7 linked regions of the Homo sapiens genome follow. The protein of the gene in region 3 interacts with the protein of the main gene of each other region in a biochemical or structural test. Each region holds a gene or a part of one and is shown on either strand. Other genes may lie near its edges.

Region 1 (4,211 bases), on a different chromosome or scaffold from region 3:
CTGAAACCTTATTACTTCTGGTTTGGCAAGTTAGGGGTAATTAATCAACTATCCTGTCTGTTGGGGCAAGGGAAATGGAAGAAAAAATTTGGAGAGTAAAAGAAGTAGAGAAAGTTCCAAAACAAATTATATTTTGGACAGATGGCCAAGAGTCTATATTTCCATTGCTAGATTTACCAGTTAGTTTGGTAACAAATGCTGATGTTTCATTAAAGAGAAAGACAAAAATAAAAAAGAAACAGATGAAAGAATGAATAGTATATGGAACCTCTACTGAAGAAATAAGAAATTTAACCAGAAAGTCAAACAACTAAAATTTGCAGTATAGAAACTCTGAAAATGAAGACGTGTCTTTAAGAAAATCCAACACAGTATTTTCACAACTTGAATTAGCAGCAGAATGCAGCATGAAATGAACAGACTTTAAAACCATGGAACCGCGTTGGAATCTGTGTGATCTTAGGCGAATTACTGATCACCCCCTCTGAATCTCAGTGTTCTCTGTAAAATGGGTATGATTAAATAATACATCCAAAATGCCTAACATTAGAGGGATAAATGTCAATCCCTTTATAAAGTAAGCTTTAAGTTATAGAAGTTTTTTAAACAACCTTATGTCAAAGTTCCTTTAAATGCAGTGCTCCTACCACATTTAAAATGTGAAAACGTTTAAGAAAATGTAATAATTCAAGAATAATCTCAAGAAGCAAGGTATATCTGCTCCTTCAATTTATTGAGTAGAACTACAGCTGGAGACAGAATTTTCAGTTTAAAGGAAATATCCAGGTACACAATTTAGGGACACTTGAGACGTAGTTCATCAGGTGAAACTGTTGCAGATACAAGGAAAAAATGGAGAGAGCTGAACTGCGTATGTCAAGTACATAGAAGCGTGTTACGGACATAAAAATTAAGGGAGTCCACAGGAAGTATTTATGAAGACAACTTCAAACAACACACCCTAAAGCAATCTGTAAAAAGCAGACAGGAAGAGACTAGAGAAGGTTGTATACATGCAGAAAAGCAACGGAGTAGCTCTGTTCTCCCTCCAAATGATCCTAGGATCATCAGGAATCAATATTGCTTCCCCACTCCCATTGAGGCCTGCTATCTGTAGCATCCACACCCTGAGTTCAAAAGGATTTTCCTCTGTAGAAGTACAGCTTAACTCCCATGGCTTGCATTCTTTCTGGGCCACCAACAATTTAGCTGCTGATCACTTCTTTTACCTTGTTACTTGGCTGTCACTGTGATCATGCACTGCTTTCACGATCACTGGTATTTCTGGAATATCTACTCATTTCTGGAAAATTCTCGGTTCCTTCAGGCAAACACTTGATCTTTTCCTAACATTAAAAACTAGTTTACCTACAAAGTCTAGTTAAAATTTCCGGGAAACATTTTTTCAACACAATGCGAAATTCTCCCTATGGTACTAGAAACCCAAATCACTGCATGAATCAATACATGTGAAAGTCATAGTAATTAGTACAAATTAGTAAAGCTGAATTTTTCTGTATGCTGAATTATATACTTTACGTATTATTAATCCAGTATTTACATAAAGGCTGCATTAACTCAATTCTCCAGCTAACAGCATTACTGGAATCACAAGTATGTAATTTAAAGCATACAAGCAACTTAACCATACTCTTTTAATAGAGTGTATGTACAAACACAATCCATACTAAACTGATAAATTTCTTCATATTAAATCAAGCCATTATAGTGGAAAACCATCATCAACTGTTATTGAAGCAATCCTTGTTCTGTGTTGTTCCAAACGTCAGACAATCGCCATGTTAGCATTAGATGAGTGTCATAAATCAATGTGGATCTTAAAAGGCCCAAGAAATCAAAGCCAAACACAAGCTAAAACTAAATTTTTACACAATAAGGCTGAGAAACACAAGTGCATAGAAGATAAAATCCATGTTTTAGCCATTTAGCTTCAATACCTTCCAAAAAGAATTTATTCTACTTTGTAAGAATTGTAAGCCTCTGAAAAGCCAGTCCCAAAATATTACATACATAATCTAAGTTTTAAGCCAATGATTCCTCATTATAGCTGCATATTAGAATCACACAGAGAGCTTTAAAAAAATGTCAGTGACCAGGACCCAGTCCCAGAAACTCGGACTTCACTGCTTTGACACAGGGCTCTGGCGTTGATCTTTTTTAAAAGCTCCCCGGATGATTCTAATATGCAGCCAGGTGGAGAACCACTACTTTAAACTAATGCAGGCTCTTCGGACAATAATTGCTCTGAGGTTGACAAACATGCTTTTTTGCCTTTTAATGAGATTTTATTAAAACTACTCAATTCATTCCACAGCTAATGAAAGGCAGTTACATTGCACGCACTGTGTTAATGGAGAAAGATGTGTAAGAAACATTCCCTGCCCTCAGGAAGCTCCTTATTAGTGAACTAGAGAGATCCATAAATAAGTAACTGTAATTAAATAAAAGTGCTCTCGAGGAGTAAGCAAATACAGCATGCCTCACAAAGTTGCACGTCATCCTTAAGCAAGGGTCATGCTGCATCATTCCAATTTTAGTGTATGTCCTACCAGAGCAGGAAAGTCTGAAGCTACAGGCTACTAAACAGGGCAAGTATTCACCTAACACAAGGTAAAAATGGTATGTATTTTGTTATTCCCTTTCATACACACTGCTGTACCAAGAAAGTAGGCATTTTTCTATGTTTTAATTTCGATGAATTGTCTTAAATTTCCTTCATGTAGTATTACCGGTTGTACACTTACTTATAATTGTAAAAGATACAGTAAATGATCATGACATAAAAATTAGTCATTAACCTCATTTGCATAACGCCCTTCCTTTCCAGTAATCGCTACATTTGCTAAGACAAGAAGTTTTGGGACTATGATAAGGTCTTATTATTGGAGATTTGTTTCAGTCATTTAAAAGATAGTTACATAGAAAATGTTATAGAACCAACAGTCACTCAAAGGAGTTTCTGCAAGATTTTCAAAAATGAGAAACACAGGGAAAAGAGTTTTAATTTTTAAAAAGGGAAACGGCATCCTTCCAATATTTGTAACAAATTGGGCACATGTTCCCTCAAAGACAGCTTTAACAAGGGTAAAGGCTGCAACCACTGGAAAGAAAACATATTCCAAATAATGATCTTATATTTCAAAACCTCATTAACTCTGTAAGTTATCTTTCTCAACCAAGGGGGAAAAAAACACACTGAAGGGTCTAAATTAAACGAGAACTTTCATTTATGCCATCAAGTAAGGCCAAGTACACAGTGGGTGAGTGAGTAGGTGGTTGCGTAGGTAGAGGAGTGAGTGGGTAGTCAATTAGTCTTGAAAAGTGAAATCTATTTTAAAGTACCTTAGTAAAAATTAAAACCTATTAAGATCTAGTGGTGAAAAACAACTTGTGATACTAATTTGGTAAAAAAGAAAATCAAAATTCCATAGAACTTGGATAGAAATCAATAAAAAGGTTTTCAGTACATGTGAATATCTTCAAGGGCTTTCTGTTCAAATTCAGAGGTGAACAAATTATAAGTTAAAAATGTATGCTGTCAAGGTCCCTGCAAGAAAATCTCAAGCTAATTTCAATTTCCAGATCAATATATACTAAGACAATTTACTAGAGAAACCTTCAACCTTTACTCAGATTGAGGAACACTATTATTACATTCTTTAACAATAAGGCTAGCTTGAATTCATTATTTCACATAATGGCATTTTATAATTGGCACTGACCAAGTCAGATTTTGTAGGATATGAATGAGATTTCACAGTTCATAGTAGTTAAGGTAGCCATAGAGTACCTATCACCTCAAAATTAGCTTGCTGCCCCTCTTTATGCAGCTCTGAAACAGTCAGAAAAGATGAATTTTTTTCTCCCAGGGGTGTTTCCTGAAAAATATTCTATCAATTACAAATCAGCAGAATATGGACTGTGTTAATGTGATTCTGACCATTTCTTTTTGATATCCAAAGAGATCACATCATCACCCTTCCAGACTTTAAGGAATCAGAACTAGTTACCAAAACTGATTCAGAGATGGCTATTTTACATCTTCACAATATAATTAACATTTTAATCTCACATTTTCCAATTATGACTTTGTTAGTTCATTTACATCAGCTATAACTAAGATGCAACAAACATCATTCACCCACACATACAGTCATTTGGAGGCTTTTGGGAAACACCTAATTTATCTT
Region 2 (4,211 bases), on a different chromosome or scaffold from region 3:
GCTTGTCTTATAACTCCTGGGCTCAAGTGATTTGCCCATCTCAGCCTCTCAAAGTGCTGGGATTACATGCCTGAGCCACTATGCCTAGCTGAATTTTTTTTTTTTTTTGAGATGGAGTTTTGCTCTTGTTGCCCAGGCGGGAGTACAATGGTGCAATCTTGGCTCACCACAACCTCTGCCTCCCAGGTTCAAGCGATTCTCCTGTCTCAGCCTCCCGAGTAGCTGGGATTATAGGCATGCACCACCACGCCCGGCTAATTTTGTATTTTTAGTAGAGAAGGGGTTTCTCCATGTTAGTCAAGCTGGTCTCGAACTCCTGACCTCAGGTGATCCGCCCGTCTTGGCCTCCCAAAGTGCTGGGATTACAGGCTTGGGCCACTATGCCTGGCCAAAATTTTGTTTTTTAATATTCAGATAGCTATTATGACATCAGGCCTGCTGGGGTAACCTCACCCCAGGTGATAGCAGGACCGCAGCAAGTCTTGTCATAACACATCCAGGGGCAACATCGCTCCCAAGATTTTGAGCATGAGGAACCTTGCTTAGCATTTCATGAGCACTGGAAATGTAACGGGAAGGCTCACTGCTAAGAGGATTATTTGTATTCCCTAAATGTCACTTATATATGGAATGATGGAACTTTCTTTTCTATGTAGAAATTTCAGCTGATGATCACAAAATGAGAACAATTGGTAATAAATACACGCAGCATTCTTAAATGAGGTATCTCCTAAGGGTTTCATAAGAGGTGGCCAAACTGGCCCCTAAACCATCATCTCCCATCATTCACCTTCAGCCCACAGAAGTATAGTGATCAATTGATTTGAGAAGAAATTATAGGAGTAAAGACAGTAATAGAAAGGGGTACTTCTGCCTGTAACACCCAACAAAATAAGTGAGGGGGCTACAAGTAAACCCCTTAGGGAATTTGGAGGTAATTGTATAATAGGAGATTGTCACCCCACTTCCTACCTGTTTATTTTGTGACTTGCAAAAATTGACTGCCTCCTCCCTTCCCCATGCATGACAGCATTCTTGGGAGAGTCTGATGTGTGCTTCTGGAGTGAGGAGGCCCAGAGCTGGTGTGGGATGTGCTGGAGAAGTCTGAAGATGCAAGGCTGGTTGGAACATCTCTATGGTGGGGTGAGGAGGAGCGGTACAGTGGGAACAAGCTGTACTTGCATCATTTGGAGGGTGGGAGATCAGGAACTCTAATAAGCCAGGTAGATGCTGTGGCTGTAAGTTAAGCTAGAGCTGTCTCAAACTGGCACTGTCCAAGAAGTCTACCAGCCGGGGTAAGGAGACTCAGGGGTATATGTCTGAGGTCAGAGGCTTAGGGAAATAGGTCAGTGGGAAAATCACCTACATTAGTGACTGGTATAGTAAGGAGCACTCTAAAAAATCCACAAAAGTAGCCACAAAGATTCCTTGATGGCCAGATTATACCAGATAATGCCAGTTAAGTAAAATCCTATCCTATTGAATCTTGTCTTTGTCTCCTGGTTCCAAAGACTGAGAAATAGGAGAAGGTGGAATCCTGCCTCCCACCATACCATAGGATGCTCCTTGTGGTTCAGGTCCAACAGGCAGAAAGGAAGAAAGCTTTCATTTATATTGGATTGCATATTTTAGCCCCCGACAAACAAGTTGCTTTTTTTTTTACCCAAAAGTGACCAGAAAGCTATCAGCCAGAAAGCTGAGATGTCAGGGTGTGGAAGAGGCAGCCTCAACAGTTTATACTTGAAGGGGAGAGAAGAAACAAAGCTGTTTTCTGACTGTGCCATGTTGAGCCCCGTCTAGTCAATGAATGTATAGCATATGAAATCATATCTCACAACTGTGCTGGGTCAGTAGAGCAAGTATGCTGGCCTCATTTTAAAAGTAAGGAAAGTAAGGCTCAGGGAAGCTAAGCAATGTGTGTGAAGCCCCATTGCTCATGTGTGGGGAGTCATGGATCCAGACTTGGGCATCAGAGCCCAGACCCAGTGACATCTCCCCTGTACCACAGTGCCTCTGGAGGTGACAAGTGATGTGCCCAGAGGCCCGGCCACTGCACACCTAGAGTCACAGAGGGATGAGGTTCATCTACCCTGACTCCCCTGCTTCAAAAGAGGTATTCCAGAGGTAACACATAGGGCTTCCCCACTTCCCACTTTCCCTGTGGTGTCAGAGGAAGTATTTATTTTCATAACACTTTGGTACAAAGGACTGCAGGCATTGTCCATGCCTCTACTAAGTATTGGCCTTTCTTTTATGGTGTAATCATAGCTCACTGCAGCCTTGAACTACTGGGATCAAGCCATGCTCTGGCCTCAGCCTCCTGAGTACTTGGGATTACAGGTATGCACCACTGTGCCTGGCTAATTTTTTTTTTCTTAGAAATAGGGTCTCCTGCCTGAAACCCCAGCACTTTGGGAGGCCAAGGCAGACAAGGCAGATCACTTGAGGTCAGGAGTTCAAGACTCCTGGCCCACATGGCGAAACTCCACTCTACTAAAAATACAAAAATGAGCTGGGCGTTGTGGTGCATGCCTATAGTCTCAGCTACTAGGGAGGCTAAGGCAGAAGAATCGCTTGAACCCAGGAGGCGGAGGTTGCAGTGAGCCGAGATCACGCCACTGCACTCCAGCCTGGGCGACAAAGCGCGACTGTCTCAAAAAAAAAAAAAAAAAAAAAAAGAAAAGAAAAAAGAAAAAAAGAATAGGGTCTCCCTACCTTGCCCAGGCTGGTCTTGAACTCTTGGGCTCAAGCAATCCTCCCAGCCTCCCAAAGTACTGAGATTACAGGCATGAGCCACCGTGCCTGGCATAGTGTTGACCTTTCTTTGACAACAAACTTAAGACAGTGTCCTGTCATCACTGTAACTTTCCCCAAAAAGCTCCTCTGCCTCTGCAGAAAGAGAACGAGCACAGAATTGAGAGCCGTATGCATTTGGCTGAAGACGAGGAAAAGCGTGCGCTTTTTTCTGAGTACAGACAAAGGAGTGATTTTACCAGGAGAGACAAAATGAGAACCAACTTTGCCTTCAAAGCAGGCCCATACCTCAGCATGGCGCCGAAGCCCTTCTTCTTTATTTTCCTTTCTGGATCTTCATTCTCCTCTTTGCGCTTTTTCTCCTTGACTTTCAATTTGCCCTTTTCCTTTTTCTTCTCCTTCTCTTTCGTTTTTTTGACTTTCCTGGCTTTATTTTCCATGTCCTCTAGCTCCGAATTCCCCTGAGGGGCAGACTCACAATTCAGAGCTCCTTGGCCAGAGTGAGAGCTCTTATCAGACAGACCGTCTGTACAGAGAAAAAATAATCAATACCCATGGTCAGGGGCACACTCAGTTAGTATACAGAGAAACGCTAACATGTAAAATGCAAAAGAATGAATAACAGCACTCTGTAGTTCTACCCTTCTATGTGGTTACGTGCGCCCTTTGAAGATCTGACTGCCTAAATCTGGTTACTTCGAGCAAGACTTGATGCTGGGAGTGGGGACAACCGGTTGCTTAGCTGGTAGTATGAAAGGCTTGATATGTGTTCAAGCACTAATCTCTCTGAAAGCTGCCTTGTTAACCTTGATCAGCTCAGAAAGCCTGCATGCTGGGAAACAAACAGGGTGAGAAGAGAGTTTTGAGTACAAAATATCCCAACTGCTTCTACCCAATTAATGCAGTCGGAGTCCTTGGATTGATGCTGCCTCTAATGACTCGAATGAGAATGTCAAGAAATGCATACTTAGTGCTCCTACCCTAAGGGTAAATGACAGTTGGTCCTTGTAGAAAAGTGAAGGAGAACATTTATTTAGCCTTGCACTGTAAAATAAATTGCATATTGTGTTCTCCAATTCCATGTTCATTAAGCCAAAGGGCAAAACATATCAGGAAAATGAATTACTTTTAATATCAAAAATATAATTGTGATCCTTAAATCATTTTTTTCTGTAGTTGAGCACACATTCTTGCCCATGATTTGCAGATAATAATGAGATGAAGAAGCCATTTAAGGAAGCATATCATCCTACCAGCTTCTATTTCTTCAGGTCCATCGTAGGATTTGTCAATGGCTGCTCTAAAGCTCTCATTGCAGCCTCGGCCTCGAACCATGTGCGGCCGGGGCCTGTGAAAGGGAAGGTCATTCTTCCTGACCTCGGCCACTGCAGTCTGCAGACTCTCCAAGGAGCTGGACTTTTTCAAACCCAGAGTTGGACCAAAATCTTTGCTTGGAG
Region 3 (2,873 bases):
ATTAAATACTGATGCCAGGCGAGCAAGACATACGGAGGCTTGCCAGAGTTCCGTTATTCATGTGACAGACACTGACTGTGCCCATCTGAGGGACCAGATGTGTGCAGAGTTTGGGGATAGGTGGCCATGACCCCACTCCTGCCCTTGGGGAGCTCCGTTCATTGGGGCAGATGGGCCTGGCCAGCTCCCATGGAAGTGAGCGCTGCTGTGGGAGTTACTACTCCCACAGCCCCTGTCCTTAAGGTGCTCAGCACCAATGCCCTCTAGAACAGTGGGGAGAAGGGGAGGGAGATGACAGGACAGGTAGGAGAGTGGCCAGAGAGGCTTCATAATTCATCTATGACTTTGAATTTTAAAATGGAGAGAAGCTGGTTTCCCAGGAAATGGTGCCCCTGGCCCTGGGCACTGGCCCGCCTGGCTGTCTCCAAGGCTCTCCTTCCCAGTGGCTGGTGTGGGCTCCTGGACCTCAGTTGAGTCCCATTGGGGTGGCAATGGAAAGGGAGCAGGGGAGTGGGGAGTACAGAGATGCAGGCTGGAAACTGGCCTCCAGGAACAACTGTGAGGTTGAAGGTGAGATTTCCATTTTGGGAGCAAATGTAAGAGGCCATATGGACAGGGCACACCTGGAGATTGGCAGGTGGCTGGTTCTAACGCTGATGTTTAGCTCCAAGGGGCATTTGCAGAGGCACAGGGGGTGGGGTGAGAAGGTTTGGAGCAAATCTGGTCTGTTTTGACCCTGAGGCCTCAGAAGGTCCCAGGAGGCAGCACAGGGAGAGAGCAGTGACTTTGCCAAGGAGGCCTCAGCGTCCTTAGCTGCAGACGGGCGACAGCTGCCCCGTAGCCCTGGGCTTCATCTTCGTGTGGCTTGAGAGCTCAGATGTGACAAGGCATGGAAAAGCACTTTGAAAGCCACACCGAGGCATTGCGCTCCTGTTGCCATCTCCAGTTATTATCTAATCACACTGTTATTACCAGGTCATTAGAGAGGGAGCACCTGCTTCACCTGACACTGAGCACAGATGGCCCCAGGTGGCCTTGGATGGGCAAACTCGGCCTTGTACCTGCCTCCTTCATGCCCTTGCCCAGCCTCAGCCATGGATCTGGCAAGATCACCTTCCTCCTTACCTGGTGCCACTGTCAGCGTGACTTTAGGGTTTCTCTTATAAGGGTGCTTTCCAAGACCACCTCCTCAGAGCATCTTTGGGAGGATGCTGTGGTTGGTGGGCTCTCACCACATGTCTGTCTGCCCTGCCCCCAGGTGGCACGCCAGCCTTCTTGCCCAGCTCACTGAGCCCCCAGTCCTCCCTGCCCGCCTCCAGGGCCCTGGCCACCCCTCCCAAGCTCCACACTTGTGAGAAGTGCAGTACCAGCATCGCGTGAGTGTGGAGGGGGGTGGGGGACCTGAGCCTTCACAGGGGAGTGGGGAGGGGGACAGGGCACTGGATGCTTTCAGGAAGGGCCGGGCCCATCAGGGGCTAGCACTGGGTACCCAGTCGGGGACTCTAGGGGAAGCAGTGTTGCACAGCTTTGGGGGCATTAGTTACAGGCTTCTTAGGAGCCTAGGCTAGCTGCTTCCGGCTGCATCTCCTCTCCCTCTCCTCCTTTTCCCATCCCTTTTGATTTCTCTTTGATCATTTCAAAGCCTCTGGAGATCTGCCCGGAGGTACAGCACATCCTCTTGGAAAATCTTGCTCTTTCCCCTTCTTCCCCCTTTGGAGCAGGCTGCATTTTTCCCGATGTGGGCTCATTTTTCTTATTTTTCTTTTCTTTTCTTTCTTTCTTTTCTTTTTTTTTTTTTTTTTTTTTTGAGACGGAGTCTCATTCTGTTGCCCAGGCAGGAGTGCAGTGGTGCAATTTCAGCTCACTGCAAGCTCTGCCTCCCAGGTTCACGCTATTCTCGTGTCTCAGCCTCCCGAGTTGTTGGGGCTACAGGCTCCCGCCACCACTCCCAGCTAATTTTTGTATTTTTAGTAGAGACGCGTTTTCCCCATGTTGGCCAGGCTGGTCTCAAACTCTTGACCTTAGGTGATCCGCCTGCCTCGGCCTCCCAAAGTGCTGGGATTACAGCGTGAGCCACCATGCCCAGCCGAGGTGGGCTCATTTTTCTCATTAAGTGGCATTTATAATGCAACCACATTCTCTGGAAGGTTGCTGAAACCCCCCCTCAGGTAAATTTCTGAAGTGTGTAGTGTGGGAGGGGCAGGTGATTGACTTTAGGCAAATCCCTTAACCTCTCTGGGCTTTAGTGTTTTCATCTGCAGAGTGGGAGAATATCCAGTCCCCCTGCTGTGCAGAGATAGGGAATGTGTGTTGAAAAAGCATGTTTTCCATCCTGGTTCTCAAAGGTGTGTGTGTCGGGTCCCTTGGAGGGTTTGTTAAATGCCGATGGCTGGGCCCCACCCCAGAGCCTCCTCTCCAGGAGGCCAACAGGCCTGAGAATGTGCATTTCTCACGAATTCCCCAGTGATGCGGATGCTGCTGGCTGTGGGACCCAGGACCACACTGAGAATCACTGCTCTGTTAAAAATCCAGGCAATGTGGGACGGACTTACAGTCTTTATGTGAGAGGAACAACTTTTAAAAAAAATTTTTAATATTTTTAATAGAGTTTCACTCTGTTGCTCAGGCAGGAGCGCAGTAGTGCCGTCATGGCTCACTGCAGCCCCAAACTCCTGGGCTCAAGTGATCCTCCCATCTCAGCCTCCTGAGTAGCTGGGACTACAGGCGTGTGCCACCATACCTGGCTAATTTTTAAATTTTTTGTAGAGATGGGGTCTTGCTATGTTGCCCAGTTTGGTTTCAAACTCCTGGCCTTAAGTGATCTGTCCACCTGGGATCCTAGGCATGGATTACAGGCGTGAGCTACTGTGCCT
Region 4 (4,211 bases), on a different chromosome or scaffold from region 3:
GCGGGCTCGCTCTGCAGGAGGCAGTCGGAGCCCGTGTCCTGGATGTTTGAAGCCTTCCTCTTTTGTTCTCTGAGACAGGGTCTTGCTCTGTCACCCAGGCTGGAGTGCAGTGGTGCAACCACAGCTCACTGCAGCCTCCTGGGCTCAAGCGATCCTCCCACCTCAGCCTCCTGAGTAGCTAGGACTATAGGTGCACCACCACACCCAGCTAATTTTTTACTTTTTGTAGAGACAGGAGTCTCGCTGTGATACCCAGGATAGTCTTGACCTCCTGCCCTCAAGCGATCCTCCTACTTTGGCCTCCCAAAGGTTTCCTCTTAAACTCACCACTTTCACCTCAGCTGTCTGGGAAGTTGTAGTTTGTCTACGCAGCAGGAGGCTGGCTGGTGTTCCTCAGAGGCTCCTGATATATTCTTGCAATATTTGAGGCCACATCTGTTCTTTTGTCTGATCAGATTATTGTCCAGCTCTCCAGCAGTCATCTCATTGACCATAGCAACCACGCACGCCTTGTTAAATACAGGGTCCCTCCAAGTCCTTTAGCACCTGCGACCTTGTCGGGGAGTTTTTGGGGCAATGAAGTGAAAAGACAATCAAGGAATCTGTCCCAGGCCAAAACCTACGTGGCATTGCCGGGTTGCAAGGTCTCCAGAGGTGACCACGGTGCACTCAGCGTACCGCGGGTCTGTGGGTGCCTGGGTGGTGGGAGGCCTTCCTGAGGAGGGCCTGGCCACGGGCAGCCGATCATTGTCGGTCTGAGGAGTGCCGAGAGCACGGGTGGCGTTGAGTGCCTGCCGCAGAGTTTGAGAGCCCCGGGGCCTGGGGCCCACTGTGTCTGGTGATTTATTCAATTGGTGGAAAGAAGTTGATTATCTTAATAGGTGTGTGTCATAAAAAATAATTTTGGCCAGGCGCGGTGGCTCACACCTGTAATCCCAGCACTTTGGGAGGCCAACGCAGGTGGATCACCTGAGGTCAGGAGTTGGAGACCAGCCTGGCCAACATGGTGAAACCCCGTATCTACTAAAAATACAAAAATTAGCCGGGCGTGGTGGCAGGCGCCTGTAATCCCAGCTACTCAGGAGGCTCAGGCAGGAGAATCGCTTGAACCTGGGAGGCGGAGGTTGCAGTGAGCCGAGATCATGCCATTGCTCTCCAGCCTGGGCAACAAGAACGAAACTCAGTCTCAAATATAAATAAATAAATAAAATAAATTTGGCCGGGTGTGGTGGCTCACACCTGTAATCTCAACACTTTGAGAGGCCAAGGTAGGAGGATCGCTTGAGCCTAGGAGTTTGAGAGCAGCCTGGGTAACATAGTGAGGCCCCATCTCTACAAAAAATAAAAAAATTAGCCAGGCATGGTGGTGCATACCTATGGTCCCAGCTCCTCAGGAGGCTGAGGTGGGAAGATGGCTTGAGCCGCAGATGCTGCAGCCAGGATTGTACCACTGCACTCTAGCCCAGGCAACAGAGTGAGACCCTGTCTCAAAAAAATAACAATAAAAAGAGTAACTTGTGGTTGCTTTAATTATGGCTCTTAAAGTCTGCTCAGACAAGCACCCCCAATTGCCTGCACCTGGGGATCCTTCCTCCACCCAGAGGTCGCCACTTCTGGGATTTGGTTTTCATCCTGACCCTGCCATGTCACGATCCAGTGGTCCCTTGGAAGGACCGGTGATCCGGTGGCAGAGATGGGGTCCCTCCCCTCCTGATTCAAAAAGACCTCCTGTGAGGCCAGGAAACCCGAAAGGGAGGAGGCGCATGGTGGGATGTTTTCTGCACGGGAACAAAGGCTCTTCAATGTCAGACACAGAATTTCGGTCATTCTTCCACCATGCGTTGCCTCTGCCAAGCAGCGGGCAAAAAGCGAGTGGGACAGGGCCACCTTGGGGCTGCAGAGCACGGGCCAGGGTTGCTGCTGTGTGGCTGGGGATCAGCCTGGCCTGTCCTCAGGCCATTGCGTTGTGTGTCACCGGGCGAGGAGGAGCCCTGGGAAGGCCCGCCGTCTTCACAGGTGATAGGCGACTGCCAGTGTAGGATGGTGGGGCCAGAGTGCATGTTGCAGGAGACAGGAGCTTGTCTGAGGCTCACGTGCTTCTTTTTTTTTTTTTGAGATGGAGTCTCTCTCTGTCGCCCAGGCTGGAGTGCAATGGCATGATCTCAGCTCACTGCAACCTCTGCCTCCCAGGTTCAAACGATTCTCCTGCCTCAGCCTCCTGAATAGCTGGGATTACGGCATGCACCACCACCACGCCCGGCTAATTTTGTTGTTGTTGTTGTTGTTGTTGTTGTTGTTGTTGTTGTTGTTGTTGGAGATGGAGTCTCGCTCTGTCGCCCAGGCTGGAGTGCAGTGGCACAATCTCGGCTCACTGCAAGCTCCGCCTCCCGGGTTCACGCCATTCTCCTGCCTCAGCCTCCCGAGTAGCTGGGACTACAGGCGCCCGCCACCACGCCCGGCTAATTTTTTGTATTTTTAGTAGACACGGGGTTTCACCGTGTTAGCCAGGATGGTCTCCATCTCCTGACCTTGTGATCCGCCCGCCTCGGCCTCCCAAAGTGCTGGGATTACAGGCGTGAGCCACCGCGCCCGGCCAATTTTTGTATTTTTAGTAGAGATGGGGTTTCACCATGTTGGCCAGGCTGGTCTCGAACTCCGGACCTCAGGTGATCTGCCCACCTTGGCCTCCTAAAGTGCTGGGATGACAGGTGTGAGCCACCACACCCGGCCAAGCTCATGCACTTCTTTTGGAATCATTCCTGTTAAATTATTCAGGGCGAGCGAAAGCACCCCTGCTCACAGCCTGTCTAAGCTCGTGGCGGTTTTCGAAACCTGCCAAAGAGAGTCCATCAGGCTGCCCAGCCATACTGACACACTCATCTGGGCTGGAGCAGGTTGTGTTACCTACCCAGAGCTGGCCCCCTGGGCCTCGGGCACTCATCCTTCCTTGCTGACCTTCTCTGGCTGTGGCCCAGGGACTCCTGTGACCCTCAGCCATGCCAAGAAGGTTCACTGAGGCGGCCGGGTGGTTTGAGATGGAGCAGCTGGTAGAGGCATGCACACATGCTTCTGCTCATTACAGAACGGTTATTGAGCCTCTGCCTGGAGCCGGGGGAAGGCTAGACCCAGGGGGTCCCCACGTGGATAAGCCAGGCTCCGCTGGGGATGACCCCGCACAGACCTTACTGTAGCTGGACAGCCCTGCCTCAAACAGGCCCGCGCCCAGAAGCTTTGCGCTAGAGTGTGTTCGGTTGTTGTGGTGACACATGGGTACCTGGACAGAGAAATGTCCACACAGGTGCTCACACACACAGTCTCCCACTTGGAACTGTTCCCTGCGTGAGACACCTGCACGGCCTTTCCGTGGGTTGGAGGCGGCCTCTGTGCACATCCCTGGAACCCGCCTCTGAGAGGTCTCTCCTGCTGGCTTGGAGGCACGGAACGGGGAGGGCACTGAGCCTTTGCTGTGTCCCACGTCCCCCTGAGTGAGTTTGCAGCCGGCACTAGGCGATTCCTCCCTCGCCCCTCCAAGGGGAACGACTGAGAGCCAGAGAAGGGGAGGAGGTGGGAAGCCGAGGGGTTTTTCACTGTAGCAGCTTCTCCAGCAGCCGTGGGCGCCAGCCTGCCTCAGGTTGGAGTGACGTGGAAGAATCGTGGTGGGGAGGCTTTCCTAACACCCACCGTGTCCTCTCCATTACATACCTCCGGTGATGGTGAGCTCTGCGCCTTCCAGCAGCCCGCCTGTCCTGCGCCTCCCTGGGCACCGATGGGGCTGCTGTGGTGTCTGTTTGTCCTGAGAGTGGCCCTCAGTGTGGGGCATGTGTCACCGTGTCGCTTTGGGGGAAGGTGGGGGGCTGCAGTGAAACAAATCCTACTGAAGTGGGTGGTGTAGTTTCAAAAGGACGGCGGGATGGCAGGATCACATCTGCCCCTGCAGGGCAGGCCCAGTGAGGTCCAGCGCACGCCAGGGCCCCTTCAGCTCCTGCATTCTCTCCCAAGAGGACCCAGCGTGGGGCTGTCCCTGATCCCTGGTGAGATAACAGTTCGATCTCACCTGGAAAAAGTGGCGAGAAAGGGAAGGGACCCCTGGCCTGTGCATGTGGTGATGTGATGTGCACGTGTGACCATGTGTGTGTGTCTGTGTGGTGTGCATGTGTGTGCATGCATGTGTGACCATGTACGTTTGTGTTAACGAGTCCAGCCCCAGGTTG
Region 5 (4,211 bases), about 16 Mb from region 3:
GAGCCGAGATCGCGCCACTGCACTCCGGCCTGGGCGACCTAGCGAGACTCCGTCTCAAAAAAAAAAAAAAAAAAAAAAAAAAAAAAAAAACTTAAGCTCATTTTTTTCCTTTAGTAAGTTACATTGACTTTAAAAGTGAGCCACAGTTTGTATTTTGACAAAGGTAGAAGGACAAGGAGCATTTGCCTTTTTATTATTTAAAAGTAAAAATAAACATGGAAAAGGTAAAAAGCTGTGGGATTGTCAGTAACACTGCACTGAGAATTAGCAAAATTGACCTTAGGGAACAAAGCTCTGCTAAGCTAAAGGTATGAGGTAGAAAATATTTTCCTCTTTATGTACCTCATCTTCCTTTAGCCTTTTAGGTAATGGGAAAGGATAAAAAAGAGATTTCTTTTTTTTTTTCTTTTCTTTTTGAGACGGAGTCTCACTGTGTTGCCCAGGCTGGAGTGCATTGGTGCAACCTTGGCTCATTGCAACCTCTGCCTCCCGGGTTCAAGCGATTCTCCTGCCTCAGCCTCCCAAGTAGCTGGGATTACAGGCGCATGCCACCATGCCCAGTTAATTTTTTTTTTTTTTTGTATGTTAGGTAGAGATGGGGTTTCACCATGTTGGCCAGGCTGGTTTTGAACTCCTGACCTCAGGTGATCCACCCACCTCAGACTCCCAAAGTGCTGGGATTACAGGAGTGAGCCACCGTACCCAGCCAGAAAAGAGATTTCTGATTGTGTTAAACTACAGATTGTAATTCAGTAGGTCGGGGGTATGGCCTGAAATTCTGCATTTCATCCCTGCTCTAGTAAACTCATTGTCTAATGGAGAAGGCAGGAACAAAACAAAGAAAAATGACATGCAATGCTATGAGTAAAAAAAAAAAAACAATCATTTTGCATAAAATTCATTCTAAAAGCAAATGTAATATTTAAACAGGAACCAAAAGCAATCAGTGCAAAGGGACTCAGAAAGGATGATCACATGCTATGTGTCAAACAGCATTGCACTCTCTTAGGTTTTCACATGTATTTGGGCAACTAGAAACCCTGACATTTCCACTAGAGACACGGAATACAATTTAAGAATACATGACACGGCAATGTATTTGAGAGGCCAAGGCAGGCAGCTCACTTGAAGTCAGGAGTGCTGGTTGTGGCTTTTCTCTCATCTATAAGCAGGTCAAGAGGTCAAGACTAAAAACCTGGACAGATGACATTATGTAATTAGCATTTTTAAATGAGAGATAGTTCTTCATATGCAGCATCAAGGAGTCTTCAAGGACCTACATTTCATAGCAAAGCTGGTCATTTGGCATAAACCTGGGTTTAATATCCAGGGCTTTTGGCACAGCATGGTGGCTCATGCCTGTAATCCTAACACTTTGGGAGGCCAAGGCAGGAGGATCACTTGAACTCAGGAGTTTGAGACCAGCCTGGGCAACATAGTGAGACATCGTCTCTATTAAATAAATAAATAAATAAATAAAATCCAGGGCTTTGGGTAACTAGCCAATGAAAACAGAAAGCACGGGGAAGAGAGAAATTTCAAAGGAAGCCGGAGCTAGAACCCTAGTGTTCTCAGTGGGATGAGATCACACACCAGGATAACAATCTTGAATTTTTTCTAACTATTGACTTAAGGTCCAAGAACAGAAAAGCACCATTCCACAGCTCTCTACACAAGAGTGGCACCCAAGTCTGCATCATGGAATATGTAAAGTCCTTTTTTGTTTTTGTTTTTGTAGATATGGTGTCTTGCTGTCTTGCCCAGGCTAGTCTCAAACTCCTGGCCCCAAGCAGTCATCCCAAATGTGCTGGGATTACAGGCATGAGCCACCACCCCTGGCCTGGAATTAATAAAGTCTTTGAAAGTTAAGAAGAAACATGAAGCAACAAGGAAAGTGATCACTTACCAAGTTCACCAGAGGACCACCAGAATTCCCATACTAAAAGCAGAATTTGAAAAAGACATCAGTGAAGCTAATGAATACATTCCCCCTTGTCCTTTACACATAGCTCCCAAAACAGTTTACCAAAAGCAGCCCACCAAGCTCCTATTCCCCCCAGGCCGGCAAAATTGTGCCCCTATCATCACCAATACCAAAGTCAGTGTAGGTAAAGAACTATAGCAGTGGGACCACCACCTTCATTTTTTTTTTTTTTTTTTGAGACGGAGTCTTACTCTGTTGCCCAGGCTGGAATGCAATGGCGCAATCTCGACTCACTGCAACCTCTGCCTCCCGGTTCAAGTGATTCTCCTGCCTCAGCCTGCTGAGTAGCTGGGATTACAGGCACCCGCCACCATGCCCAGCTAATTTTTGTATTTTTAGTAGAGACAGGGTTTCATCATGTTGGCCAGACTGGTCTCGAATGCCTGACCTCATGATCCACCCCCTTCGGCCTCCCAAAGTGCTGGGATTACAGGCATGAGCCACCGTGCCTGGCCAAGGGACCACCACCTTCTTACAGGAGGGGTGACCTCTACAACAGACCACCTAATAGCATGGATGCCAGCGATCACAGCGAACGAGACAGACTCTAACAAAGTGGCATTCCATTCCTCCCACAGTGATTCAACCAAACCTGGACATCCCCAAAGTTCACTCTGACATATTCTTCTCACTGAACTGCCAATATTGTGTGATCTGAGGAAAGGCCTCCTAAGTCAGCAATCCCCAAACTTTTTGGCACAGGGACCGGCTTTGTGGAAGACAATTTTTCCACAGACGGAGGGGTGGTTTGGGATGAAACTGCTCCACCTCAGATCATCGGGCATGAGTTAGATTCTATAAGGAACATGCAATCCAGATCCCTTGCATGCGCAGTTCACAATAGGGTTTGCACTCCTATGAGAATTTAATGCCGCCACTGATCTGACAGGAGGTGGAACTCGGGCAGTCATTCTCACTCGCCCATGGCTCACAGCCTGCTGTGCGGCCCAGTTCCTAACAGGCCATGGACCTGTACTGGTCCACAGCCCATGGGTTGGGCACCTCTGTCCTAAGTGACTTACATTAATTGTGGCATCAATCTGGACGTAGTCCATATCTGAATCCTTCATCCCCAGTTCTTTGCCCCCTCGCTGTTTGGTGCTGACAATTCCTGCAGTAGCTGTGTTCTGCAGAGAAAATGGGCTGCCCAAAGCCACCACAAACTCTCCAGCCCGAAGGTCAGATGATCTTCCCAGCATCAGTACAGGAAGTTCAGCCTGCACGTGCCCAAAAAGGGATGGGGAGGACAGAAAGGGTAAAGAACAAATCACGATCAGAATTGACCAAAGTGTGTGTCTAACACATATATGACGCTGTCTCTATCACCTTGGCCCTTACCACCTGAGAAGCACCCACTCACACAGCTTCTATGATTGCCTTCTACTTCTTCCTCAAAGTCCAACTACCATGAAGCTCTTGAGTGTTAAGATGACTAGGATCATTTCTAAGATCTAAAACAATTACTTTGTAGAAATTACTATTAGTAAACAGCCAGTGAAGTCACTGATGAACATAAACTGACATTAGGAATTTACACAGCACCATTCCAGCTCAAAGCTTAACAGTCAAAGTGAATAAGCCACAAACAGAAAGGAGATCACCCAGGGTGACACTTCTCACACTGTAATGTGCATGCAAATCACCTAGGGATGTTATGTTAATGCAGATTCTGAGTCAGCACATCTATCTGGGTAAAGGCTGAGACTCTGAACTTCTAAAAAGCTCTCAGACACCATGTCAATATATGTGATGTGCAGACTACCAGTACTATGTGTAGGAAGGACTTCAAAGTATTCCTTAGCAACTTTGAGTCCATCGCAGTAATTTCTGATATCCTAAGACAAGTAGAGAAATAATTTTCCCTGAAGCAGCATTTGTTGAAGGAGGAAAAAAAAAAAAAAAAGACTGCTTGATAGTTAATAGAAACAGTTAGAGGCCAAGCGCAGTGGCTCACACCTGTAATCCCAGCACTTTGGGAGGCCGAAGCGGGCGGATCACTTGAGGTCAGGAGTTCGAGACCAGCCTGGCCAACATGGTAAAACCCAGTCTCTACTAAAAGTACAAAAATTAGCCAGGCGTGGTGGCAGGCACCTGTAATCCCAGGTACTCAGGAAGCTGAGGCAGGAGAATCACTTGAACCCAGGAGGCAGAGGTTGCAGTGAGCTGAGATTGAGCCACTGTACTCCAGCCTGGGTGACAGAGGGAGACTGTTTCAAAAAAAAAGAAA
Region 6 (4,211 bases), on a different chromosome or scaffold from region 3:
GTTTTTCCCTCAAGAATATCTGCACTCACGCCTGTAATCCCAGCACTTTGGGAGGCCGAGGCGGGTGAATCACTTGAGGCCAGAAGTTCAAGACCAGCCTGGCCAACATGGCAAAACTCCGTCTCTACTAAAAATACAAAAATTAGCCAGGTGTGGTAACGCAGACCTGTAATCCCAGCTACTCGAATCAGGAGAATCACTTGAACCCAGGAGTCAGAGGTTGCAGTGAGCCGAGATCGCACTCTAGCCTGGGTGACAGAGTGAGACTCTGTCTAAAAAAAAGAAAAAAGAATATCTGCATTCAGTTTTTATTGTATGTTATAATAGTAATGCCACCTTATCTGGCTAGCATTTTATGGAAATCTAGTGTTTCACACAAGCAGATTTCTTAAGTAACTAAATGTGTGTATACTCAAGACTGAAATCCTAGATAATTAGATTTATTTATATTGGAATAGAATCTGAGAAAAATAAATCTGAGAGAGTCTCTTACATGTATATCTTTATTGCCATCTACTTAAATTCGGATCACTTGCTCAAGTTGGGTGGCTACTGGAGTAATATTCAAGTAAGCACAGTATTAATGTACTGTACATACTTTAATATAGTAGTTTGTGATGTCTCCTAACTTTTTATATTATTGATTTTTTATCTTTTCCCAGGGCCTTTTAAATTCCTTTTGTTTAGTTAGGACTATACATTGTATTTTTCACTGGTTGAAGAACTTGAGTACCTAAGTAATTTGGTAACCTCCCATAATCCACTGGTACTGTTCTTAAGATTCAGGTAATTCATGAAGTTAGATTGAAAAACATTTTTTTATTAAAATAGAATTTTAAGACAAATGGTGGTAGAGTGGGTGTTTACACTGTTTAATACTAACAGTTAAATGATAGGTCCACATATATTTGCTTACTTGAGTTGCCTGAAATTCAGTTAGAACATTCTTCAAGAAATAAACATTTTTTAATACCATTGGTTAAATCAATTATTTTTAAAGGCTTTTTGTAGCAGTCGAACCCTTTCTGTGAAGAACATATTCAGAAATCTTGTTTCTCCAGTTCATAAAACAAGCAAAAAGTAGAGCTGCTTTGGCAAAATTTACTTTGCTGTCAAGAAAATTCACCAATGTTAAGTTCTCAGGTTGGTCTTTCAGTCAGTGTGAAACAATGCCTTTTGCTAATCGGGTATATTGGTTAAACATGTCAGGGACTGATGGCAGCTATCACTTAGCAGCCACAATTTGGTCATTTAAAAATAAGCTGATGTCAAGTTAGCAGAAGAAAAGCACCATCGCCACCCCCTTTTTTAAAGGCTAAAACAGTATATGGGTTTTGCCTACTCAGAAATAACAGCGGGAAGATCACTTCAGCATTTGTCTCTTAGGAGAGATGTGCCCTACCAAACATGGCTGAGGTGCAGTCTAAAAGAAACAGACTTACAGTGACACCTCTGCAGATGGGTGACTAATCCAACGACAAGTTGCACATACTTTTAAAGAAAGAACTGTGGAGTATACTTCAAAAGTCCTTGGTGTATTTTCTTGAACCTCACCTGTTCAGCAGTAATGCCTCTGAAAGGACTTTCCTCCAGAACAAGTCCATTTAATTTAGAATCTTTATATTACTCACCCATATACCTTTATTTGTTGTGTTCCTTATGTTAGTACAGTTTCTGCGTCCTTTAATGACAGGAACCTGTCCATAAAGATAAATCATATTCAGTCTCAATTTTTTTTCTTCTATCCTCAGGGAAATTCAGGGCTTGGTTTCAGCATTGCAGGAGGTACGGACAACCCACACATTGGAGATGACTCAAGTATTTTCATTACCAAAATTATCACAGGGGGAGCAGCCGCCCAAGATGGAAGATTGCGGTATGTTTTGCGCTTTTTATTGTGATGCTGAATCCACTTTGTGTATTTTTCTTGAAGCAGACTGGATAAGGGATAAATACAAATAACAAACACGATCATGATAACTAGCATAGGGTAGATGCTTTAACAACATTCAAGTCAATGAATGAGATAATTATGCTCTAAGCATTGTGTTCCTGTTTTCATTTAGACTCCAGTTTTATCTTAGATATTATAACATTTTGAATAACAAATTTGGTTGATGGTTTAAATCTTTGTGAGCATATTTATAGAAATCATGAGTTTCCCTTTGTGTTTTCAGATACACTCACAGAATATTTTCCATTTCCTCTCTGGCTGGGAAACATGTGTATAAACTTATTTAAGTACACTCACAGAATATTTTCCATTTCCTCTCTGGCTGGGAAACATGTATATAAACTTATTTAAGATACGGAGGATAGAGGATCACACATCCATGTTGAATCCCACACCACAAAGACTATATGCAAACTTTAAATAATATATTTTCTTATTGACTAGATGAAAATAACATTTGTCTCTGTTTAAATTTAGTGTTCCATTTTGGAAGATATATTTTGCAAACTTTGATTTTTTGAGGGTCATAAATTATGTCATTTTTCCTATTTCCTTGTTTGTTGTTCAAATACCCTGAAGTTTTAGGACTAAAGAGTTTATGTAGTCTGTTAAAAACAGCATCTTATTTTAAGGACGTTGATGCCTTACGCAGTTTTTGAATTTCTAAGCTTTATAATTCTCACTGGGTATGACAGGTGGTATATTAATGAAATCAAATAGATATAAAAATTAATCATTTGACCATTCATGTAAATGTAGACATTTACTTCCTGATTCTGTTAGATATAGAAGCTTGTCAGGACCAGTTTTAATATTTTAATTATGTTTTGTTTACCCTCTCTACCCAATTTGAGATGACCATCTTTTTTTCCTGGTGGAATACCATGCAATCAAAGAGACCAGAACTAGGGAAAAGGCTAAGACTAGGAACAAATCAGACTTTTAAAAAACATAACACCATGGCAAATTATAAGTTCTTTACCTACGAAACCTTTGAATTAAGTGACCTAATCTTTATATAAATTTCAAAAAATAACTTAATTGTTTTATGTCTAATATATAGGTTGGAATAGGCACTCAGAAAATTATTTTTACTTTATCTCAGTTTTCACACTATCTCTGTGACCTTAAACTCGTGATGTGAGCCTCAGTTTTCTTATCTTTGAATCACAGCTCTGTCACTTATTATCTGGGTGGCCTTAGGAAAGTTATTTACATTCTTTGTGCCTCAGTTTCTCCATCTGTGAAATAGGGATTAAAATATATATTAAGCTTACAGGTGTCATGAGGGTTAAAATACCAAGAAAGTGCCTGGCATGTGGTTAGTGCTAAATAAATGTTTGCTATTTTTATAAAGTGTGTCTTAATGCCTACACAGAATAAGCATGCAGGAAGTATGCAAATGGTAGCTGTAATTATTATTTAACATTTTTATATAATCTATTATTTTCACTATTTCTTTTGTTCCTTTTGCTGGCCCTTGGGAAATGTTTGTATTTGTTTATATTAGTTTTTGATATACTTTCTTCATTTATGTTTTCTGGAATTACTCCAGAATTATTTATAATTCTCTTTACCTTAAAAAAGAAGTAACAAAAAATTGGTAAAGTGGAAAATTTATATTTAAATTATATTTAATTTTTATTTTTAATATTTAATTGTTTTCTCAGGGTCAATGACTGTATATTACGAGTAAATGAAGTAGATGTTCGTGATGTAACACATAGCAAAGCAGTTGAAGCGTTGAAAGAAGCAGGGTCTATTGTACGCTTGTATGTAAAAAGAAGGAAACCAGTGTCAGAAAAAATAATGGAAATAAAGCTCATTAAAGGTCCTAAAGGTATGTGGTAAGTCAAACTAAGATAAATCTTTAAGAAATCTCTGAGTTAAATATACCTATGAACTTTATCTGTGACATACATTCCAAGTACAGTATTAGTAATATTCTACAGAACTTGAGTGGATTTTAATTTCTCCGTTATTTCTACTGATTTTTGTCTTACGTAGCATTTTAGAATATTTACATTTCTACCAAGATTGCAGCATTTGAAAAGTTCCTTTTTTTGCGGGGTTTTTTTGTTTGTTTTTTTGAGGCAGGGTTTTGCCCTGTCACCCTGGCTGGAGTCCAGTGGTGCAGTCATGGCTTACTGCAGCCTCAGCCTCCTGAGCTCAAGCGATCCTCCCACCTCACCCTCCCAAGTAGCTTGGACTGCATGCACACACCACCACACTGGGCTGATTTTTTTTATTTTTTGTA
Region 7 (4,809 bases), on a different chromosome or scaffold from region 3:
AGATGCATCAGCCCTCCCCATGTTGGTGCCGCTGTCACTTCCTACTGGGATCCTTCCCCTATCCAGCCACATCCAGGCTGTGGGACTACACGGTGCCCTGTTCCCCTGGGCAGGAGAAGAGGTGGTACCTGCAATGCACCTTCACAGCCAGGCAAGCATTCTGGATTTACCCTGTGTAAAGAAGGGTGGTACCCTCTTTCAGGGGTGTGATACAGTGCATTGATGGAGCAGCTGGTGCTGCTGGGAGGCCAGCCTGGAAGAGGCAGCAGTGGCTCAAGTTTGCGTGCAGGAGCCAGAGTGGGACCCACGGGCTCTTGTGGGTGTGGTTTAGAACTAGATGGTGCTTTGGGGACAAGCCATCCAAAAACCCCAGGCCCACATCCACCCTGATTTGATATCCCACTTCCTGACAGATCAGAGGCTGTGTCTTTAAGCAGTGGAGGTCCAGGAGCAGAGCCTGGGGCTGGTTCACAGCTAAACCCCTCCTTAGGGCAGCCCAGAGTAGGGCCTCAGCTGGCAAGTCCACAAGCCCTGCTGGGGCCCTGCTTGTTGGCCTGACCCCTCCCTCACCAGGCAGCCAGCCAAGGTGGTTCCTGCTTCACCCACTCAGTCATCAGCCTCAGGCTGCCCAAAATGCCTCTGACACCAGATTTATATCTTCTGGGCGGCTTCTTTAAATCCAGCCCTTCACCCGCCCCCTAGAGAAGCAGTGAAACCCCTTGGCTAGTCCAGCTGGAAGAGCTAGACCGCAGGAGCCGCGCCGTCTTCCTAACCTCGCCTCGGCCTTCGCTCCACAGTGGAGAGTGGGAGCCTAGCTGTGCTTGATGCTGAATGCCTGTTTTGAGAGTGTGAGTGGGATCATCTACAGTAAATACTTGCAAAGCATGGCACTGTGGCTCTGGGGAGCTGGTACGCCTGTGCTGTAACCATGGTACTCAGTCCTTCCAAAGTGTTTATTAATCAAGCACCTGTCATGTGCCATTGAGCCCACGATGGGGAATGAGGACAGTCCCTGCCCCCATGAAGCTTGTGTCCTGTTGGGAGGACAGACAGGTGGCCCAGCAGTTGCAGCATGGTGTGTGCACACGTTTGGCTGGTGGAACCATGTTTCTACCACTCATGGTCAAAAAAAGCCCACCAAAGTCCTGGGAGTTCACATCTGTGTGATGATACGGCAACATTGTTTGTAATGGAAAGACTGGACACCCCCAGTGCCCATCAGTGGGGGAGTCATTAAATAAACTATGGTATGTGCACATAATGGGTGGTATGCAGCCCTTTGGAAAAATGTAGGTTTTCCAGGTCCTGGATATAGCAGCGTAAGATGGGAAATCACAGAATACCCATGTTGTGCCTGAGATGGCAGGTGGGGTACCCGTGGTACCCGGGAGGGTGGCAGGTGGGGCACCCATGTTCTACCTGGGGTGGCAGGTGAGCCCATAACCATTGTAGAGGCCAACATCCTCAGAGGCCTGAGTGTGGGGAGGTAGGCTTTGACTCCCTAGGGAGAGAGGGACACTTAGGAAACAGACGGGCCCTGGAAGTGGGACATGAAGAGTGCCCTGGCCATCCAGTGTAGGCTGAGATGCTAGGGGCACAGAAAGAAGAGATCTGCTGATGCCAGCCTTCCAACCATTTCCCAGCTTGGCCAAGAGCCAGCTCTGGTATTCGTGAAGGAACAGATCCTGGGTGAAGCTAGAGGGAAGGCCGCAGAGGCAAAAGGAGAGAGGAGCTAGGCCAGGGGTCAGCGACTGACCCTCGCGGCCAGTGTACAGGGGTTGCAACTGGGAGCCTAGGGGGCCCCAAGGCATCTCCAGGCCCAATCTACCTCTGGGCTTTTCTCAAGCTCTCCCTAGGATTACTGCGGTTTCCTCCTGGCGCCTCTCGTCTTGGACAGCCATGCCCCCCTCCATGCTGCACTAATGGCTCAGCCTGGGGCCCTAGGGACCTCTCCTACCCCCCAGACTGCTCTGTCGGCCCCCTTTCCCCCCTACTGCTGAAACCCAATCCTCTGCAGCAGCGCCGGCTCAGCACCGCCGGCTCAGCACCGCTCCGCAGCCCCTGCCTGCCACGGTCAGCTACGTCCCACCTGGTCTGCTGCGGAGTCCCCAGCCCAGTGCCTAGCCCAGTGGAGCCACCGCCTGTTCCTCGGGAAGGAACAGTGGGACCTGACCGGCCAGATCACCTCCTCCAATCCTGCCAGGCTAGTGCCTCCCTGCCTTCCAACCTTGGCTGTCTCCCACCCTCTCTTCTCCTCTCCTTGCCTGGCCTCCTGAATCCTATCTTAGCCTCCTTAGCCCCCTGACTGACTCTCTCTCGCTTCTTCCAAGCCTCTGTAGCTGGTTCCGCTCCTGGGTTCTGGCCATGAAGCCCACCTCAGGCCCAGAGGAGGCCCGGCGGCCAGCCTCGGACATCCGCGTGTTCGCCAGCAACTGCTCGATGCACGGGCTGGGCCACGTCTTCGGGCCAGGCAGCCTGAGCCTGCGCCGGGGGATGTGGGCAGCGGCCGTGGTCCTGTCAGTGGCCACCTTCCTCTACCAGGTGGCTGAGAGGGTGCGCTACTACAGGGAGTTCCACCACCAGACTGCCCTGGATGAGCGAGAAAGCCACCGGCTCATCTTCCCGGCTGTCACCCTGTGCAACATCAACCCACTGCGCCGCTCGCGCCTAACGCCCAACGACCTGCACTGGGCTGGGTCTGCGCTGCTGGGCCTGGATCCCGCAGAGCACGCCGCCTTCCTGCGCGCCCTGGGCCGGCCCCCTGCACCGCCCGGCTTCATGCCCAGTCCCACCTTTGACATGGCGCAACTCTATGCCCGTGCTGGGCACTCCCTGGATGACATGCTGCTGGACTGTCGCTTCCGTGGCCAACCTTGTGGGCCTGAGAACTTCACCACGGTGAGCTGACCTCCCTACCTATCCTGCCAGGGACCCAGAGAGCCGACCAGTCCCTGCCCAGCACCCACAATTCCCTAGCCAGCACAGGCTCCCCCAAAGCCAGGGGACCTCTTCCTTCCTACCAGCCATGGACTCCCCACCCCCCAGTGCCACTCCGTGCAGCCCAGGAAGCTGTCCTCCTTGGGGCTTTCTCTGTCTCCCAGCCCGAGGGGAGCATGTGAGGCCACACTGACCCCGGCTGGCCCTAGGCCTGAGGTCTGGCCCAGGGAGGCCCTGCTCCTGGGGCTGGGGGTCCTCCATGGTGGGACCATTCTGGGGCAGAAGACCCCTATCTCTGCCAGGAGGTGGGGGGGGCTTGCTTTCCCTCTGCCTTTTCAACATACTGCCAGCCCCGGAGGACAGCCACAGGGGCCCATTTCCTTTTCCTGCAGTTCCCAGAGAAACACAGAAAAACCTGTAGGCTGTGCCCTGGGCTTTGGTGGGGATTGGCGGGGTGGAGGAGCTGAGTTGATGGGCTCCCAAGAGCGTCCTGCAACATGTGCCCACTGGAGCGTGGGGCTGGGGGCATTGAGATGCGGGCTTCAGTATTCAAAGAAGAGACGCAAACATACCATGAGGTGGGGAGAGGTCCCATGACCATGTGCCTGCCTGGGGGAGATGGCCATCACCCTGTCTGCCCGCCCCAGATCTTCACCCGGATGGGAAAGTGCTACACATTTAACTCTGGCGCTGATGGGGCAGAGCTGCTCACCACTACTAGGGGTGGCATGGGCAATGGGCTGGACATCATGCTGGACGTGCAGCAGGAGGAATATCTACCTGTGTGGAGGGACAATGGTAGGGAGCACACAAATGAGGCTGGGGGAGGGCACGGATGGAGTGCAAAAGGCTAGGGGAAGGAGAGGAGGAGAGGAGGTGTCAGGGTGTTCCCCCAGAACCTGTGAAAGGGGCTGGGCTGGCTCATCCCAGTCCTGGGGAGAGGGGCTGCAGTGAGAGGTCTTGTCTGGTTGGGCAGGAGACCTGACCACACAGGTCAGGCCTCACAGGTCCCTCCCCGACAGAGGAGACCCCGTTTGAGGTGGGGATCCGAGTGCAGATCCACAGCCAGGAGGAGCCGCCCATCATCGATCAGCTGGGCTTGGGGGTGTCCCCGGGCTACCAGACCTTTGTTTCTTGCCAGCAGCAGCAGGTACCCTTCCGTGTGCCTCCACACCTACTACTTCAAGCCCACACCACCTCAGACCCTAAACCCTCAGCTCCTCAGACCTGTCTAGGGGCCTCTCCCCAGCTGGCCTCTCACGCTCTCCGGGAAGCCTCCTTAACCCTGTCCCCCCACAGCTGAGCTTCCTGCCACCGCCCTGGGGCGATTGCAGTTCAGCATCTCTGAACCCCAACTATGAGCCAGAGCCCTCTGATCCCCTAGGCTCCCCCAGCCCCAGCCCCAGCCCTCCCTATACCCTTATGGGGTGTCGCCTGGCCTGCGAAACCCGCTACGTGGCTCGGAAGTGCGGCTGCCGAATGGTGTACATGCCAGGTGAGGGGCTGGGGTTTTCGTCCCATGGCGGGCAGGGCCCAGGGAGCTGAGGCTGCTTCTAAAGCCATCTCCCCGGTACCCGCAGGCGACGTGCCAGTGTGCAGCCCCCAGCAGTACAAGAACTGTGCCCACCCGGCCATAGGTAAGGGCGAGCCTCCCCCACCTCCCGTCCGCCCCGCTCCGCCCGCGGGCGTCTGACGCGGCCCGGTGGCCCGCAGATGCCATGCTTCGCAAGGACTCGTGCGCCTGCCCCAACCCGTGCGCCAGCACGCGCTACGCCAAGGAGCTCTCCATGGTGCGGATCCCGAGCCGCGCCGCCGCGCGCTTCCTGGCCCGGAAGCTCAACCGCAGCGAGGCCTACATCGCGTGAGCTGCGC

What was found.
Region 1: the proteins of PDLIM2 (region 3) and CASK interact in a test that uses a peptide from one of them, tested with the Homo sapiens proteins (one large-scale study listed by IntAct).
Region 2: the proteins of PDLIM2 (region 3) and PARD3B interact in a test that uses a peptide from one of them, tested with the Homo sapiens proteins (one large-scale study listed by IntAct).
Region 4: the proteins of PDLIM2 (region 3) and RADIL interact in a test that uses a peptide from one of them, tested with the Homo sapiens proteins (one large-scale study listed by IntAct).
Region 5: the proteins of PDLIM2 (region 3) and HTRA4 interact in a test that uses a peptide from one of them, tested with the Homo sapiens proteins (one large-scale study listed by IntAct).
Region 6: the proteins of PDLIM2 (region 3) and DLG1 interact in a test that uses a peptide from one of them, tested with the Homo sapiens proteins (one large-scale study listed by IntAct).
Region 7: the proteins of PDLIM2 (region 3) and ASIC3 interact in a test that uses a peptide from one of them, tested with the Homo sapiens proteins (one large-scale study listed by IntAct).

What each region holds. Positions count from the first base shown.
Region 1 is NC_000023.11:41,916,769-41,920,979, forward strand, and holds part of CASK (peripheral plasma membrane protein CASK), read right to left. Parts: intron 1-4,211. UniProt on the Homo sapiens protein: Multidomain scaffolding Mg(2+)-independent protein kinase that catalyzes the phosphotransfer from ATP to proteins such as NRXN1, and plays a role in synaptic transmembrane protein anchoring and ion channel trafficking.
Region 2 is NC_000002.12:205,300,533-205,304,743, reverse strand, and holds part of PARD3B (partitioning defective 3 homolog B), read right to left. Parts: coding exon 4,008-4,211; intron 3,281-4,007; coding exon 3,043-3,280; intron 1-3,042. UniProt on the Homo sapiens protein: Putative adapter protein involved in asymmetrical cell division and cell polarization processes. May play a role in the formation of epithelial tight junctions.
Region 3 is NC_000008.11:22,590,293-22,593,165, forward strand, and holds part of PDLIM2 (PDZ and LIM domain protein 2), read left to right. Parts: intron 1-1,258; coding exon 1,259-1,376; intron 1,377-2,873. UniProt on the Homo sapiens protein: Probable adapter protein located at the actin cytoskeleton that promotes cell attachment. Necessary for the migratory capacity of epithelial cells. Overexpression enhances cell adhesion to collagen and fibronectin and suppresses anchorage independent growth.
Region 4 is NC_000007.14:4,873,295-4,877,505, reverse strand, and holds part of RADIL (ras-associating and dilute domain-containing protein), read left to right. Parts: intron 1-4,211. UniProt on the Homo sapiens protein: Downstream effector of Rap required for cell adhesion and migration of neural crest precursors during development.
Region 5 is NC_000008.11:38,976,943-38,981,153, reverse strand, and holds part of HTRA4 (serine protease HTRA4 precursor), read right to left. Parts: intron 3,202-4,211; coding exon 3,007-3,201; intron 1,940-3,006; coding exon 1,907-1,939; intron 1,196-1,906; coding exon of another isoform or gene 1,163-1,195; exon of another isoform or gene 669-1,162; intron 1-668. UniProt on the Homo sapiens protein: Serine protease.
Region 6 is NC_000003.12:197,137,805-197,142,015, reverse strand, and holds part of DLG1 (disks large homolog 1), read left to right. Parts: intron 1-1,751; coding exon 1,752-1,876; intron 1,877-3,624; coding exon 3,625-3,794; intron 3,795-4,211. UniProt on the Homo sapiens protein: Essential multidomain scaffolding protein required for normal development. Recruits channels, receptors and signaling molecules to discrete plasma membrane domains in polarized cells.
Region 7 is NC_000007.14:151,046,522-151,051,330, forward strand, and holds the start of ASIC3 (acid-sensing ion channel 3), read left to right. Parts: upstream 1-2,009; 5' UTR 2,010-2,364; coding exon 2,365-2,898; intron 2,899-3,584; coding exon 3,585-3,735; intron 3,736-3,959; coding exon 3,960-4,087; intron 4,088-4,236; coding exon 4,237-4,432; intron 4,433-4,517; coding exon 4,518-4,574; intron 4,575-4,650; coding exon 4,651-4,798; intron 4,799-4,809. UniProt on the Homo sapiens protein: Forms pH-gated heterotrimeric sodium channels that act as postsynaptic excitatory receptors in the nervous system. Upon extracellular acidification, these channels generate a biphasic current with a fast inactivating and a slow sustained phase.